4 linked regions of the Homo sapiens genome follow. The protein of the gene in region 3 interacts with the protein of the main gene of each other region in a pairwise test. Each region holds a gene or a part of one and is shown on either strand. Other genes may lie near its edges.

What was found. Proteins that work in one complex are often made in the same cells at the same time.
Region 1: the proteins of APOC2 (region 3) and NFU1 interact in a two-hybrid assay, tested with the Homo sapiens proteins (one large-scale study listed by BioGRID).
Region 2: the proteins of APOC2 (region 3) and MAIP1 interact in a two-hybrid assay, tested with the Homo sapiens proteins (one large-scale study listed by BioGRID).
Region 4: the proteins of APOC2 (region 3) and SYT16 interact in a two-hybrid assay, tested with the Homo sapiens proteins (one large-scale study listed by BioGRID).

Annotation. Positions count from the first base shown.
Region 1 is NC_000002.12:69,402,783-69,406,435, reverse strand, and holds part of NFU1 (NFU1 iron-sulfur cluster scaffold homolog, mitochondrial), read left to right. Parts: intron 1-353; coding exon 354-414; intron 415-3,653. UniProt on the Homo sapiens protein: Iron-sulfur cluster scaffold protein which can assemble [4Fe-4S] clusters and deliver them to target proteins.
Region 2 is NC_000002.12:199,954,422-199,958,534, forward strand, and holds the start of MAIP1 (m-AAA protease-interacting protein 1, mitochondrial isoform 1 precursor), read left to right. Parts: upstream 1-1,160; 5' UTR 1,161-1,377; coding exon 1,378-1,827; intron 1,828-4,113. Other genes in the region: TYW5 (tRNA wybutosine-synthesizing protein 5), read right to left, coding at 972-1,049. UniProt on the Homo sapiens protein: Promotes sorting of SMDT1/EMRE in mitochondria by ensuring its maturation.
Region 3 is NC_000019.10:44,944,519-44,948,850, forward strand, and holds the start of APOC2 (apolipoprotein C-II precursor), read left to right. Parts: upstream 1-1,532; 5' UTR 1,533-1,557; intron 1,558-3,947; 5' UTR 3,948-3,960; coding exon 3,961-4,015; intron 4,016-4,182; coding exon 4,183-4,332. Other genes in the region: APOC4 (apolipoprotein C-IV precursor), read left to right, coding at 231-372, 622-787. UniProt on the Homo sapiens protein: Component of chylomicrons, very low-density lipoproteins (VLDL), low-density lipoproteins (LDL), and high-density lipoproteins (HDL) in plasma. Plays an important role in lipoprotein metabolism as an activator of lipoprotein lipase.
Region 4 is NC_000014.9:61,819,203-61,822,855, forward strand, and holds part of SYT16 (synaptotagmin-16), read left to right. Parts: intron 1-3,653. UniProt on the Homo sapiens protein: May be involved in the trafficking and exocytosis of secretory vesicles in non-neuronal tissues. Is Ca(2+)-independent.

The DNA of each region.
Region 1 (3,653 bases), on a different chromosome or scaffold from region 3:
AAATCAGTTTCTTTTCTCTGATACTTTCAATCCTTGAGAACAGAGAATGTCTGCATATTTACTGGCTTAAAATTTCATACCCTAACATCATTAGCATATCAAGATGTTTTAGTGTACTCATCTTTATCACCAGATGTTGAGTTGATTGGTATTCCCTAATTTTTCTTCAGATAATCAAATGAATGTTTCTGTCATCAATTTCCCAAAATATATCTCCATACCAAGTTACATGTTCTTTCTATAGTTTTATGTTTTTAATGAACCATGTAGTTAAAATCATTCTGTTTTAATACTCGTACTTGCATGGCTATAAAATTTCTACTCTTGATGTTTTTATATGTAATTATTTCTAGGATCTGAAGAAGATGATGAAGTTGTGGCAATGATTAAGGAATTGTTAGATACTAGAATACGGTACGTGCTCCTCTCTCTACCTGAATTCAAGTGCTTTGGAGGCATTTTTCATTATAGCAATATAGTTTTAGTTGGCCATGAGATTATAGTAGATTTTCAAAATAAGTGCAAGTTAATGTAAACCACAACAGGTAGCCGTGACAATTGAATTTAAAGCCTGTATCTTCTCTACATTTACTCAAAATTTTAAAACATCCAATTTATTTAAACATATTCAATGAAGAAATGTATTCTTCACAGTCTCAATTTAGATTTGATATTGTTATAATACCAAATTTCTTAAAAAGAAAAAAAAAAGACTTAATGTTTGGCAAGGTTGTGAAGAGAGAATGAGTACCTATTTTCAGTATATTGCCCATACAGAATAAATGTTAAGTGAGTGGAGAACAGCAGGCTTCTACTTTTGCTTGTAGCAGACCAATAGTCATGCTGAGAACTCCCAGAAAAGCTGGATAAAGTACAATAAAAAGAATTTGTTTGAAAGCATTAGATAGCTGCCAGAGCAAGCAAAATGTGAGGTGCCAAGATCCTGGAGAGAAGGGAAGCTCACTGAGTTTTCCCTTCAGGCATTTGCTGTTCCTTGCTACATAGCTAGGGTAGAAGAAGCTGGGCAGAGGGCAGCTGCCAAGAATCAGAGAAACCACTGGGCTTTCAGAAAATTTGTTTAGATGGGAAGACAAAAATTAAAATTCTGGGTTACCAATGAAATCTTGATTTCAAGGACCAAGATCCTAGAGAGCAGGGAAGTTAAGAAAAGTAAGCCTATAGTTTTTGGTTTTTTTTTAAGACGGAGTCTTGCTCTGTCACCCAGGCTGGCATGCAATCTCAGCTCACTACAGCCTCGCCTCCCGGGTTCAAGCGGTTCTCCAGATTCAGCCTCCTGAGTAGCTGGGATTACAGGCACAGGCCACCACACCCAGCTAATTTTTGTATTTTTGGAAGAGACAGGGTTTCACCATGTTGGCCAGGCTGGTCTTGAACTCCTGACCTTGTGATCCGCCCACCTCAACTTCTCAAAGTGCTGGGATTACAGACATGAGCCACTGCGCCCAGCCAAGTAAGCCTATAGTTAGTAACAATGTATTGTATTCTTGAAAATTGTGGCTGGGTGTGGTGGCTCACGCTTGTAATCCCAGCTGTTTGGGAGGCGGAGGTAGGTGGATCACCTAAGATCAGGAGTTCAAGACCAGCCTGGCCAACATGTTGAAACCCCATCTCTACTAAGAATACAAAAATTAGCCAGGCGTGGTGGTGGGCATCTGTAATCCCAGCTACTAGGGAGACCGAGGTAGGAGAATCACTTGAACCCTGGAGGCGGAGGTTGCAGTCAGCCAAGATTATGCCATTGCACTCCAGCCTGGGCGACGAGCAAAACTCTTTCTCAAAAAAAAAAAAAAAAAAAAAAATTTGCTAAGATAGTAGTTATTAAGTGTTCTTGACACAAAAAATAAGTATGCGAGGTAATGTATATGTTAGTATATGTTAATTAGCTTGATTTAGCCATTCCATGGTGTATACAGATATTTTTTTTTTGAGACAGAGTCTTGCTCTGTCACCCAGGCTGGAGTGCTGCACGATATCAGCTCACTGCAACCTCTGCCTCCCAGGTTCAAGTGATTCTCCTGCCTCAGCCTCCTGAGTAGCTGGGATTACAGGCATGTACCACCACACCCAGCTAATTTTTGTAGTTTTAGTAGAGACAGGGTTTCACCGTGTTGGCCAGGTTGGTCACGACCTCCTGACCTCAGGTGATCTACCCTCCTCGGCCTCCCAAAGTGCCGGGATTACAGGCGTGGGTCACCGCTCCCGGCCTACATATTTCAAAACATCATGTTGTACATGGAAATATCTATAATTTTTGTGAATTAAGAATAATTAATTGGAGGCCGGGTGCGGTGCCTCACGCCTGTAATCCCAGCACTTTGGGAGGCCGAGGTGGGTGGATCATGAGGTCAGGAGATTGAGACCATCCTGGCTAACACAGTGAAACCCTGTCTCTATTAAAAATACAAAAAATTAGCCGGGCATGGTGGCGGGGGCCTGTAGTCCCAGCTACTCGGGAGGCTGAGGCAGGAGAATGGCGTGAACCTGGGAGGCGGAGCTTGCAGTGACCCAAGATTGCACCACTGCACTCCAGCCTGGGCGACAGAGTGAGACTCTATCTCAAAAAAAAAAAAAGTAACCCTGGAACTAAAATTATAATAACTGAACTTAAGAACTCATTAGATTGGACATAGTTGAAGAGAAGATTAGTATACTGGAATTTAAGTCAGTAGAAAATATTCAGCCTGAAGCACAGGGAGAGAAGAGAATAGAAGATATGGGAAAGAAGCATGAGATGGTGGGCACGGTGCTCACACCTATAATTCCAGCACTTTGGGAGGCTGAGGTAGGAGGATTGCTTGAGCTCAGAAGTTAGAGACCACCCTGGCAACATAGTGAGACCTTGTCTCTACAAAAAATTAAAAAATTAGCTGGGTGTGGTGGTGTGCACCTGTAGTCTCAGCTGTTCCTGAGGCGGGAAGATTGCTTGAGCCCGGGAGATTGAGGCTGCAGTGGGCTGTGATCACACCATTGCACTCTGGTCAAGGAGATAGAACAAGACCCTGTCTCACCAGAAAAAAAAAAATGAATCAAACCTCCGGAGGGGAGAAATAGAATAAAAAATAATTCATCAATCTGAAACAATGCAAAATAGGAAACAGTAAATGGTAATATAAACTCAAAAGTGTTGGCATTTAAATGACAGTAGTTTGATGAACAAAAATAAGATTGTCAAATTGGATGTGAAAAAACAAAAAAACAAAATCAACTATAGACTGCTTAGAAGAGATATAGGGGCCAGGCATGGCGGCTAATGCCTGTAATCCTAGCATTTTGGGAGGCCAAGGTGGCAGATTGCTTGAGCCCAGGAGTTTGAGACCAGCCTGGGCAACATAGTGAGACCCCGTCTCTACAATGAAAGAAAGAGAGAAAGAGAAAGAAAGAGAGAGGGAGGGAGGAAGGAAGTGAAGGAAGGAAGGAGGGAGGGAGGGGAAAAGAAAAGAGAAGAGAAAAGGAAAGAAATAGAATATTTGTATGACCTTCGGGTAGGCAATTTTTTTTTTTTTCCCCAACGGGACACAAGAAATCAGATAAAGACCGGGCGCGGTGGCTTACACCTGTAATCCCAGCACTTTGAGAGGCCGAGGTGAATGGATCATCTGAGGTTGGGAGTTCGAGACCACCCTGACCAACAT
Region 2 (4,113 bases), on a different chromosome or scaffold from region 3:
CAGAATTGTAGTTTTGTTTGTTTGTTTGAGACCGAGTTTAGCTCTTGTTGCCCAGGCTGGAGTGCAGTGGCGCGATCTCGGCTCACTGCAACCTCCGCCTCCCGGGTTCAAGCGATTCTCCTGCCTCAGCCTCCCGAGTAGCTGGGATTACAGGTATGGGCCACCACCATGCCCGGCTAATTTTGTATTTTTAGTAGAGATGGGATTTCTACTGGCTGGTCTTGAACTCCTGACCTCCGGTGATCCGTCCGCCTCGGCCTCGCAAAGTGCTGGGATTACAGGCGTGAGCCACCGCGCCCGGCCCCAGAACTGTAATTCTATGACCACCCTTATAAATGTAAATATCAGGTAAGAAAATTGCTGGGTATTTTTCCTACCATAAACTGACTTACTGTAATCCTGTGGATTTTTCCTTTTAATACCTTGTTTTTCTTAGGTCTGGACTCCCTTGAAAAGCACTGCAAGTAAAAGCACTTTTTGTTTCCCTAATATTTCTCTATGAGTTTTCTTTTAAAGACCTAAGGTTCTAACTACAGGTATAAAAGACTCCAATGTCGGAACTAGAACCTAAGTAAGTTAGAATTCAAGACGAGTAGGAGTTTTCCGGGGGAATCCCATTGCTTTCCTTTTTGGCTCAGTGGAGTGAAAAGTTGTGCCTTCAAATCCATTAATTCGGAGCAGACTGACAGATGCGGAGTAAAGAGTTTAGGCAAAATACCTCTCGCACTCAGCTCTCCGCCATCATCTTGCTCCCCAGAAACATGGGACTTTCTCCGGAAATTTCAATAGAGGAGCCAGTCGGCGTCCCCCGTGCACCTTTCCCTTGGTCTAAGGGCCAACCAGTGATCTGCTGCCGTCCTGCGCCTCTTTCCCACACCCTGGGTCTCTAAAAACCAGTTCCCAGCTGTCCGAAAGGTAAAGACGTGTCTCTCGCTGGTTTCTCGAGGTTCTGCCCCGCGCGAGGGCCTCACCTGTGGGTAGAGGTGCTGCATGAACTGCTCCCGAGAAACGCCCTCCAGCCGGGGTACCGGGAGGTGCTGCCCGGCCATGGTTGCTCACGCCTGCCCTCTTCCAGGTCTTCGGAACTTCGGCTCTAAAGCGTTCCTCAGCGCCATCCGCCCGGAAACACGAGCGACAGAGAAAAGGTCCGCGAGGCCGGCAGACTCCAGAGTGGCTGGGTCCGAGCGCGGGGCGGGTTGCCGAAGGGCCTCGGCCTGGGCTGCGTGCTGGAGAGCGGGGACGGGGCCGACTCACCAGAGGCTGCAGCAACAGGTCCACTTTGCTCTCCAGTCTCTTTCTCCGACACCGCTGAGGCGGTTTCCCACCGACTTCCTTTCCATACAGCACCGGCAGGCACCGGTGTGAAGGGTCATAAAAATGGCGCTGGCCGCTCGTTTGCTACCCCAGTTCCTGCACTCTCGGTCGCTGCCCTGCGGGGCCGTCCGACTCCGGACTCCTGCTGTGGCCGAGGTGAGGCTGCCGTCGGCCACACTTTGCTACTTCTGCCGCTGTCGCCTCGGCTTGGGAGCGGCGTTATTTCCACGAAGCGCTAGGGCCTTGGCAGCCTCGGCGCTACCTGCCCAGGGCTCCCGGTGGCCAGTGCTCAGCAGCCCGGGACTCCCCGCAGCCTTCGCTTCTTTCCCTGCCTGCCCTCAGCGCAGCTACAGCACGGAGGAGAAGCCCCAGCAGCACCAGAAAACCAAGATGATCGTCCTGGGATTCTCCAACCCCATCAACTGGGTTAGGACTCGAATTAAGGCCTTCCTTATCTGGGCCTATTTCGACAAAGAGTTCAGCATCACAGAGTTCTCCGAGGGAGCGAAGCAGGTTTGTTTATTTCCCTGATTGACCTATCCGTCTCTAATGAGTTCAACTATTGCTCGCAGAAGTGCTTAGCAGTGAGTTTTCTTCACTGGGATACAAGTGATCAAACGTGATTAGTGGCCCAGACATAGAGCCTTCCAGCCATTGCTTGACTTAAAGTAAGCTTCTGGGCCGGGAATGGTGGTACACGCCTGTAGTCTCAGCTACTTGGGAGGCTGAAGGGGAGGATCGCTTGAACCCAGGAGTTGGACGTTGTAGTGAGCTGTGATCGTGCCATTGCACTCCAGCCTGGGATACAGAGCCAGGCCCTGTCTCAGAAAGAAAAAGCTATATGGCTCATCTTGTCTGAACATAATTTTCAAATTTACAAAGTGGGCAAGACAATGCCTGGCACATAGTAGGCACTCCATGAATGTTTGCTGAATACATTAATAAATGGGTAAGATTGAAGAATAATTGAGATAACATTTCCAAAGTGCTGTAATGTCACCTTGGGTAGAAGAGCAGAACTTCCTGCCAGCTATTAGACAGAGCCGACCAATACACCACCCCATACTCCGTAAAGATTAAACTGGAGATGAGCAATTTTACCCTTTCAAAGGATTTGCTGAGACTGCCTGGTGGCTAAGTGCACAGCACCCTGCACACAGAAAATATTTAGCCTTTAGAGATTCTTATCCCTGACTTTGTTAGTTACGTACCTGTTTCTGAATGGCTGATTATACCTTGCCTTACCCTTGTGACATATGGTCACTTGGGTCCTGAGATTATTTGTAGATTTTGTGGGTACATGCTTTTTTTTTTTTTTTTTGGACTCCTTTACAGATTGTATCGTTCCCAAACATTGCAGAACTGCTGATAACAATAGAAGTCGGCCAGGCATGGCGGCTCACGCCTGTAATCCCAGTACTTTGGGAGGCCGAGGCAGGTGGATCACAAGGTCAGGAGTTCGAGACCAGCCTGGCCAATATGGTGAAACAGTGTCTCTTCTAAAAATACAAAAATTAGGCGTGGCGAGCCCCTGTAGTCCCACCTACTCTGGAGGCTGAGGCAGGAGAATTGCATGAACCCGGGAGGTGGAGGTTGCAGTGAACCAAGATTGCGCCACTGCACTCCAGCCTGGGTGACAGAGCGAGACTCCGTCTCAAAAAACAAAAACAAACAAAAAAACCACAATAGAAGTCAGAAAGTTTATTTCCCGCTTCATACCTCCATATGCCTTAAAACCATGCTATTGGTGTAATCATTTTACAGTATTGGTTGTATACTGGTATTGATATTTTACTCCAAATTTATTTCAGATTCTTTCCATAATCATGGCCATTTGTATTTATAAGACCAATCAGTTGTAAATCAAATGTTTTCAACTTTGTTTAATAAGTGTCAGTATTAACTCCTGCTGCCTGCTTCTCTGAGTCAACTCTTGACTACTATATATATTTATATAAAAAAAGTCAAAGAACAAACTTGATTAAGATGCTTAACTCAGCATTATAATTGATAAACCTCTGCTCTTGTCAGTTCTCAAAGTCTTTTGTCCATGCAGTGGTAAGTTGTATTGATCCTACTGTTCTGTACAATGCCCACTGATGATATATGAGCTTGTCCACCTCATAACACATATGATGGTACCAGTTCATTTATGTTTCAGTAAGGAATGGAAATCATCTCCCCACCATGGGCAGGCATCAGGCCTCAGTACTTGTTTCCTCTGAACACACAGAGGAGCATGCAGCATTTTTGGGGTCACTCCAGTCCTAGTGGTCCTCCAGCTGTTAGCTATTTTCACCTCCTTCCTTGCTATTAAGCAGTATTTCCACCCCATTCATCAGCCAGCCTGTAAGCATTGTTGCTTATATAAAGCAAACAACCTGAATTTCAGTATCAAGGTGTCGGAGGGGTTGTTTTCTCCTGAGGCCTCTCTCAGCTTACAGATGGCCGTCTTCTTGCTGTGTCCTTGCATGGTCCTCCCTGTGCATGCGTGCTCCTGGTGGCTCTTACTCCACATTTGCTCCTCTTATAAGGATGCCAGTCAGATTGGATTTTGGCCCACCCTGATGGTCTCATTTAACTTAATCATCTCTTTAAGGCTTTATCTCCAAATATAGTCACATTTCAAGGTTCTGGGGGTTAGAGCTTCAGCATAAATTTTCGGGGAAGGAGAGCACAATTCATCCTATAACAGTTAGGCAGTATTCTCTGACATGCCATATCTGACATGCCTGTGCATCCTCTGGCAGCCTAGATTTCAGCTTAGATGTTTCTTCCTTTAGGAAGCCCTCTCTGATC
Region 3 (4,332 bases):
ACTGACTCTGTCTCATAAAAAAAAAGAAAAAAGAAAAAAAAAAAGAGATGGCTGATGGTTAAAGAGGGGTTAGCGGTCAGGGGACACATAAGGGTAAAGGCAGGAGGCAAGAGGACTGGCAGGGGGCTGCCCCTGGGCCACCGGGAGCGACACAGGATGAGCATGGAGGGAAAGGGAGAAGGGGATTCTAGGGTCCCAGCCTACCCAAGTTGCCCTCTGGTTCCACCTAGCATGCCAGCCAGAGGCCCAGGAAGGAACCCTGAGCCCCCCACCAAAGCTAAAGATGAGTCGCTGGAGCCTGGTGAGGGGCAGGATGAAGGAGCTGCTGGAGACAGTGGTGAACAGGACCAGAGACGGGTGGCAATGGTTCTGGTGAGGGTGTGCTGGGCTGGGTGGTGGGAGGGGACTCCTGGGTCTGAGGGAGGAGGGGCTGGGGCCTGGACCCCTGAGTCTCAGGGAGGAGGAAAGGGTGGGAGTGGGGCTGTGACCCCTAGGTCTGGGAGGAGTGGAGGGTTAGAGCTGAGAGCAGGAACTCCTAGGTCACAGAGAGGAGCGGATAAATGGGGCAGAGAACACCTGGGGAGAGCTGGGGCCTCCACTGTGATGTCCTCTCTCCTGTAGGAGCCCGAGCACCTTCCGGGGCTTCATGCAGACCTACTATGACGACCACCTGAGGGACCTGGGTCCGCTCACCAAGGCCTGGTTCCTCGAATCCAAAGACAGCCTCTTGAAGAAGACCCACAGCCTGTGCCCCAGGCTTGTCTGTGGGGACAAGGACCAGGGTTAAAATGTTCATAAAAGCCAGGTGTGGTTGTGGCGGGTGCCTGTAGTCCCAGCTACTCAGGAGGCTGAGGTAGGATGATGGCTTGAGCCCAGGAGTTCGAGACCAGCCTGGGCAACACAGCGAGATCTCTTGGGGGTAAAACAAAAAGAAAAAAAAAAGTTCATACTTCTCCAATAAATAAAGTCTCACCTGTGTCCCTGTCTGGATCCTTCCCCAGTGTGGCCAGAAAAAAACCCACCCCACTGCCTCCCAGGAATCAATGAGTAGAAGAGGTGACACCTGATGGGGAAGGAAGAGTAGGGAGGTCGGGAAGGGTATCAAGGAATAACACCCTATTGTGGGCTTGCGGAGAATGGGGGACTTCAAGGCGTGTCAGTTTCAGGAGGGTGAGGGCAGGAGCGTGGGTGGAGTCAGCAGGTCCCCATGATGGCCCTCACTGAGAGCTTCGCCCTTGTCTCCTACAAGCTCTGACTCCATTCCCAGTGGGCACCCAGCACCTCCAACCCCTCCACAGCCCCCAACCCAGCCTCTGTCGGAGGCGAATTCTCAGAGTGAGGGTTCCCTGTCACTTGAGAGAAGGTTCCCTGTGACGTGACCTTGGGGGACGTCATTGCCCTTTCTGTCCCCACCCACCCCCTCCGCAGTTCTGTTGGCCAGGACTTTGGCCTAGACAAAGGATGGGGGTTGTGGCTGTGGAGCGGAAGTGGGTCTCAACCACTATAAATCCTCTCTGTGCCCGTCCGGAGCTGGTGAGGACAGCCTGCCAGAGTCTGGTAAGAAAGGGACTCAGGGTGCGGGGACAGGGGGGCGTCAGCAGGGAGAGGGCAAAGATCGATAAAGCAGGAATTTTAAGAGGCACAATATTAGAAGCCCGTGTTGGAACCATGACTGTGTGTGTGTGTGTGTGTGTGTGTGTGTGTGTGTGTGTGTGTGAGAGAGAGAGAGAGGGAGATGGAGTCTCGCTATGTAGCCCAGGCTAGACTCAAACTCCTGGGCTCAAGCAATCCTCCTGCCTCAGCCTCCCCAGTAGCTGGGACTACAGGTGCACCACCACACTCCACAAATCACAGAATTTAGAACTGTAGACTATTTGAGCTTCTGCTTAGAGTTAGGGTGGCTGAGGTGGGGAGGATCCCTTGAGCCCAGGAGTTTGAGGATGCAGTGAGCTGTGATCTTGCCACCGTGTTCCAGCCTGGGTGACAGAGAAACCCCATTTCTAAAAAAGAGAAAGAAAAAGGGATAGGTACAATGGCTCATGCCTGTAATCCCAGCACTCTGGGAGGCCGAGGCGGGTGGATCACTTGAGGTCAGGAGTTCGACACCAGCCTTACCAGCATGGTGAAACCGCATCTATACTAAAAATACAAAAATTGGCCGGGTGTGGTAGCATATGCCTGTAATCCCAGCTATTCCAGAGGCTGAGACAGGAGAATTGCTTGAACCCAGGAAGCGGAGGTTGCAGTGAGCCCAGATCGTGCCACTGTACTCTAGCCTGGGTGACAGAGCAAGACTCAGTCTTGGCGGAAAAAAAGAATGAAAAAATTTAAAAAACTAAAAAAGAACTGTAGGCTGGGCGTGGTGGCTTACACTTGTAATCCAAACGCTTTGGGAGGCCAAGGCAAACGGATCACTTGATGTCAGGAGTTGGAGACCAGCCTGGCCAACATGGTGAAACCCCGTCTCTACTAAAAATACAAAAATTAGACAGGCATGGTGGTGCATGCTTGTATTTCCAGTTACTCAGGAGGCTGAGGCAGGAGAATCGCTCGAACCCGGAAGACAGAGGTTGCGGTGAGCCAAAATTGCGCCATCGCACTCCAGCCTGGGCGAGAGAACAAGACCTTGTCTTGGAAAAAAAAAAAGAATTGTAGACCATTTGCTTGTGTTCTTTCTCCGGGGATCAGATCTCACCCTCTTTCTGCCGTACTTCCTCATCTCCTACGTGTGGATGATGATATTGTGCCCTGTGCATGTTCTTCGTCACCAAAAGTGCCTCTCTCATAGAGCAGGTGAGAACTCAGTGAGGAGATGCAGGGACATGAGGTCTGACTTAGGGCAGAGCCCTAAGGTAACACATTTGATCTACTGTAGGTCCTTAATGGTGTCTGCAGAGCACCTCCCTGCACTGACTCAGCCTTAGCAAAGGGCAGAGGCTTTGCTGTGTTCCCTGCTGGGCCCAGAACTGTTTAGGTGCTCAAGAAAGCCTTCTAGGCTGGGCTCAGTGGCTCACACCTGTACTCCCAGCACCCTGGGGAGGCCGAGATGGGAGGATCGCTTGAGCCCAGGAGTTCCAGACCAGCCTGGGCAACAAAACAAGTCTCCCATCTCTACAAAAGAATAAAAATTAGCAGCTGGGCATGGTGGCTCATGCCTGTAATTCCAGCACTTTGGGAGGCCAAGGCAGGCAAATCACTTGAGGTTAGGAGTTCAAGACCAGCCTGGCCAACATGGTGAAACCCCATCTCTACTAAAAATACAAAAATCAGGTGGGGCACAGTGGCTCAAGCCTGTAATCCTAGCACTTTGGGAGGCCAAGGTGGGCGGATCACGAGGTCAGAAGTTCGAGACCAGCCTGGCCAGCATGGTGAAACCCCATCTCTACTAAAAATACAAAATATTAGCCGGGCATGGTGGCAGGTGCTTGTGATTCCAGCTCCTTGGGAGGCTGAGGCAGAAGAATTGCTAGAACCCTGGAGGCAGAGGTTGCAGTGAGCCGAGAACACGCCACTGCACTCCAGCCTGGGTGACAGAGCGAGACTCCATCTCAAAAAATACGAAAACAAAAATCAGCCGGGTGGTGGCGGGTGCCTGTAATCCCAGCTACTGGGGAGGCTGAGGCAGGAGAATTGCTTGAACCTGGGAGGTGGGGGTTGCAGTGAGCCAAGATTGCACCACTGCACTCCAGCCTGGGCAACAGAGTGAGATTCCATCTCAAAAAAGAAAAAAATAATAATTAAAATGTTAAAATCAGGAGTAGAATCACAGAATGTTGGAAAGTGAGGCCCAAGAAGGGGGCTGTGTCCAAGTCCATGCATGGGAAACTTGACTGGGACACCGAGCTCACACAGAGCAGGATCTCAGTCCCCCCCACCAGAGTGGGGCGTGACCACAGGAACAGCCGCCTCCAGTCAGCCTGCCACATGACACCCCCTCAATGTTCCAGGTCTCTGGACACTATGGGCACACGACTCCTCCCAGCTCTGTTTCTTGTCCTCCTGGTATTGGGATTTGGTGAGTGTGGGCTTCCGGGGAGGGAAGCCTTGGGGAGGGGAATGAGCTCCAAGCATCTTCCCAGCCCAGGCCCTTCTTACCTCTGCCTCTGCCCTCTCCTCTTCTTCCTTCCTCCTTTCCCCCTGCTGCAGCCCCACGGGCTCTCCTGACACACTCTCCCCCTGCAGAGGTCCAGGGGACCCAACAGCCCCAGCAAGATGAGATGCCTAGCCCGACCTTCCTCACCCAGGTGAAGGAATCTCTCTCCAGTTACTGGGAGTCAGCAAAGACAGCCGCCCAGAACCTGTACGAGAAGACATACCTGCCCGCTGTAGATG
Region 4 (3,653 bases), on a different chromosome or scaffold from region 3:
ATTTGGATGACATTTGTCCTTTTAGATCACTAGGGTATTATTTAGTCATTAACTATTATTTAGCATTATGAATGATAAGATGGCTATTATGCCATTTAACAATTGTCTGTATATTAAGATGATAATCAAACTCACTGACAGTGCTTTCTAGTAGATTGGAGAGGTATCTGAAGTGCATATTACAAAAAAAATTTTATGCACAGCTGTCATCCTTCCATTAAGGATTATACATATCTGATTTTAGGTAGTTTACATTTATGGATGGATATTACCCCTTTAGAATAAAATTTTCTTATTGTGAGAATATAATATTCTTCTGGCGTCTAATTTTAGGAATATAATAAGTCACATTCTATAATTTTACTCACAATGGAGCAAAGATTAAGAGACATAAAATGATTTTACCCACCCTGCATGAAAATGCCCCTGGTTTATATACTTAATTCAAAAGAGCACCATACAGATAACCTACCAATTACAAGGAGGTTTTCAATTGGCTTAGCTCAATAGAAATTGCAAAAGATTGAAGAACTGAGTGTGGTATGGTGGAAGAGAGCACAGGCCTGGTTCCAGAGGTGCCTGAGTCGTGAACTCTGGTCCTGCCACTCAAAGGCTGGGTAAGAGGTAAATTGTTTAACTTCCCGGAGGCTTTGTCTTATTCCACTCTGAGGAATTACAAGGAGTAAAAGAGATGGAACAGAGTTGCTGGCACAACATATGCATTAATAAATGTCTGTCCCTTTACCTGCTACAAGATCCTTCCAATGGCGTGTACCTCCCCATAGGGTGTACCTCATATTATGAGAACAATCTGACTCAGAAACAGGGTGCCTAGTCATTGATTCCATTTTTTGTGTGTGAGGAATATAAAATTAAGAACAAATGATCTGTGTACAAATGTAAGACTAGGGAAGAGAATCTAGGACAAGCACCCAAAGGTGCAGAACTCAGATTTTAAATAGAAGTAATAATCATGTTTTCTTCCCCAATGTTTATTGTTTTGTGCAAGTGTACTTGTACCATGAGCATGTGGATTTGTGAAATGTGCACACACACAACTTGTAGAAACCTTGGGAGAATTCACTGATGGGCTGTGAAAAGGGCTACAACAGCTACCTCTTTGATTTAAGAGGCAAGAGGGTTTTGAGCACTTCTCCGCTGATGTGCATTTGGCGATCTCTCTGGGCTTCGTGGCCTACCCCTCTCAGGAATGACTGATGGATGGCTATAGCACTGGGCGGATATGCTTCAGGGCACCTCTTCAGAGTTTTTTTTTTTTTTTTTTTTTTTTTTTTTTGAGACGTAGTCTCGCTCTGTCGCCCAGGTTGGAGTGCAGTGGCACGATCTCGGCTCACTGCAACCTCCGCCTCCTGGGTTCAAGCGATTCTCCTGCCTCAGCCTCCTGAGTAGCTGGGATTACAAGTGCCTGCCACCATGCCCAGCTAACTTTTGTATTTTTAGAAGAGACAGGGTTTCAGCCTGTTGGCCAGGCTGGTCATGAACTCCTGACCCCAAGTGATCAGCCCGCCTCAGTTTTCAGAGTTGAATGCCCTCCTGGCTCTGAAGTTTTATAAAAGCCCCTTCAATGATGTTGATAAGCCTGAAAAATTTCTGGCTGTTCCATTATTGAGCTTTAAAAAAGCTTAATATGCTAGTAATACTCATACATAAATGACCTTGTCTCCACTGGTGCTGACCTTAGCCATCCAGCCCTTCCTTCTGGGAGTAGCCTTTCTCTGTCTCAGACATCTGCTCTGGGATCCTCCCACTGCCCATGTTGACATTCCCTGTCTCTCTTGCTTCCCAGCTCTTGCTCTAACTCCCCATACCTGCCAATATGCTTTTCCCTTTGGTTTCACTATTCTTGGTATTTTGGCTGAGACACACCAGCTCTATTAGTGTCAGGTTTGCAGAGCCCTCAGCCGCTGGGCTGCCTTCAACAGCCCTCCCCTTCTTCTCCACAAGAAAAAGGTAGAGGATGACCCCTCTCCCTTAACCCCTATCATCCTATTTCTTAGACTTTTTAGAAGTGCATTACAATATCTTTCCTAACTAGCCCAAATCAATTGTTAGATTTTAGTGGTGATAATTAGAATCACAGTCATATTTTCTACAGTGTTTTTTAAATACTCCCCTATATTTGTTATCTATTGCTGCATAACAAATTACCACAAAGCTAGTGGCTTAAAAAAACACTTATCTGTCATTCCACAGCTCTGTAGGTCAGGAGTTTGCTGGCTGCAATCAAGGTGTCAGCTATGGCTGGGCTTTCATCTGAAGGCTTGAGTGGGGCAGATCCACTACTGAGCTCATGGGCATTGACAGGATTCAGACTCTTGCAGGCTGATGGACTGAGGGCCTCAATTTCTTACTGGCTTTAGCTAGAGGCTACCCTCAATTTCCTTCTATGTGAACCTCCCAGTATGGCCTCTTGCTTCATCAAAGCCAGCAAGGGAGAAAGTCTGCTAGTAATAGAATCATGCAAGTGACATTCCATCACCTTTGCTGTATTCTCTTGGCTAGTAGCAAGTCATAGGTTCCTTCTTAACTCAAAAGGAAGGGATTAAACAAGGATGTGAGTACTAGGAGATGAGGATAATCATAAACCATCTTAGAGTCTGTCTGCTATACTCCCCATGAAACTTTTATATCTACTTCTTCAATTAGATTTTTATTTGGAGTATTACATTTCCTCTTTAAGACTTTAGATATCATTGGGATGGTGTACTAGTCAGGGTTCTCCAGAGGGACAGAGCCAATAGGATATATCTATAAAAATGGATTTATTAGGGGAGAATTGGCTAACACGATCACAAAGGTAAAGTCCCAGCATAGGTCATGAGCAAGCTGCAGAACCAGAGAAGCCAGTGGCATGGCTGTCAGAGAGCCTGGTAGCATGGCTCAGTCCAATTCCGAAAGCCTCAAAACTGGGGAAGCCAACAGTACAGCTCCCAGTCTGAGGTCAAAAGACTGAGAGCCTCTAGGAGCTTGCTGGTACAAGTCCAACAATCCAAAAGCTGAAGAACCTGGAGTCTCACGTCCAAGGGCAGGAGGAGAAAGTCCTGCTCTGGCAGGGAGAGACAGAGCAGAGGGTGGATCCCCCATCTTTTCCCACACTCCTTCTTTGTCCTCGTGGGGCCACCAGCCAACTGGATGGTGCCTATCCATATTGAGGGTTGGTCTGCTTCTCTTAGGCCACTGACTCCTGCATCATTCTTCTCTGGAAACACCCTCACAGACACATCCAGAAACACTGCTCACCAGCCATCTAGGCATCCTTCAATCCAGTCAAGTTGACACCTACTGTTAACCATTGCAGGTGGTAAAGCCTGAAATAACTGCCTCCGTCAGAGAAGAAATTGTTCTCTTCTTTCCAACCTGAGAGCTGTTGCACTGTAGAAACAATGGCGCTGGAAGGGTAATTTTTGGTGTTTGAGCTGCTATTGGGGAAGTCCATCTGAATAAGAGGCTGCTGTGGTGAGCTCTGAAGAAGCAGAAGGCAGTATGCTTTGTGAATTTTATGCAAATGTTACAGATTTATAAAAATGAAAACACTCAAATTGTCTCATTTTTGGAAAAATTAAAAAACACAGGAAGTCAGGATGATGCTCTGAAACTCAGGTTGAAAGTGGGTAAAGGGCACAGAGTGAGAC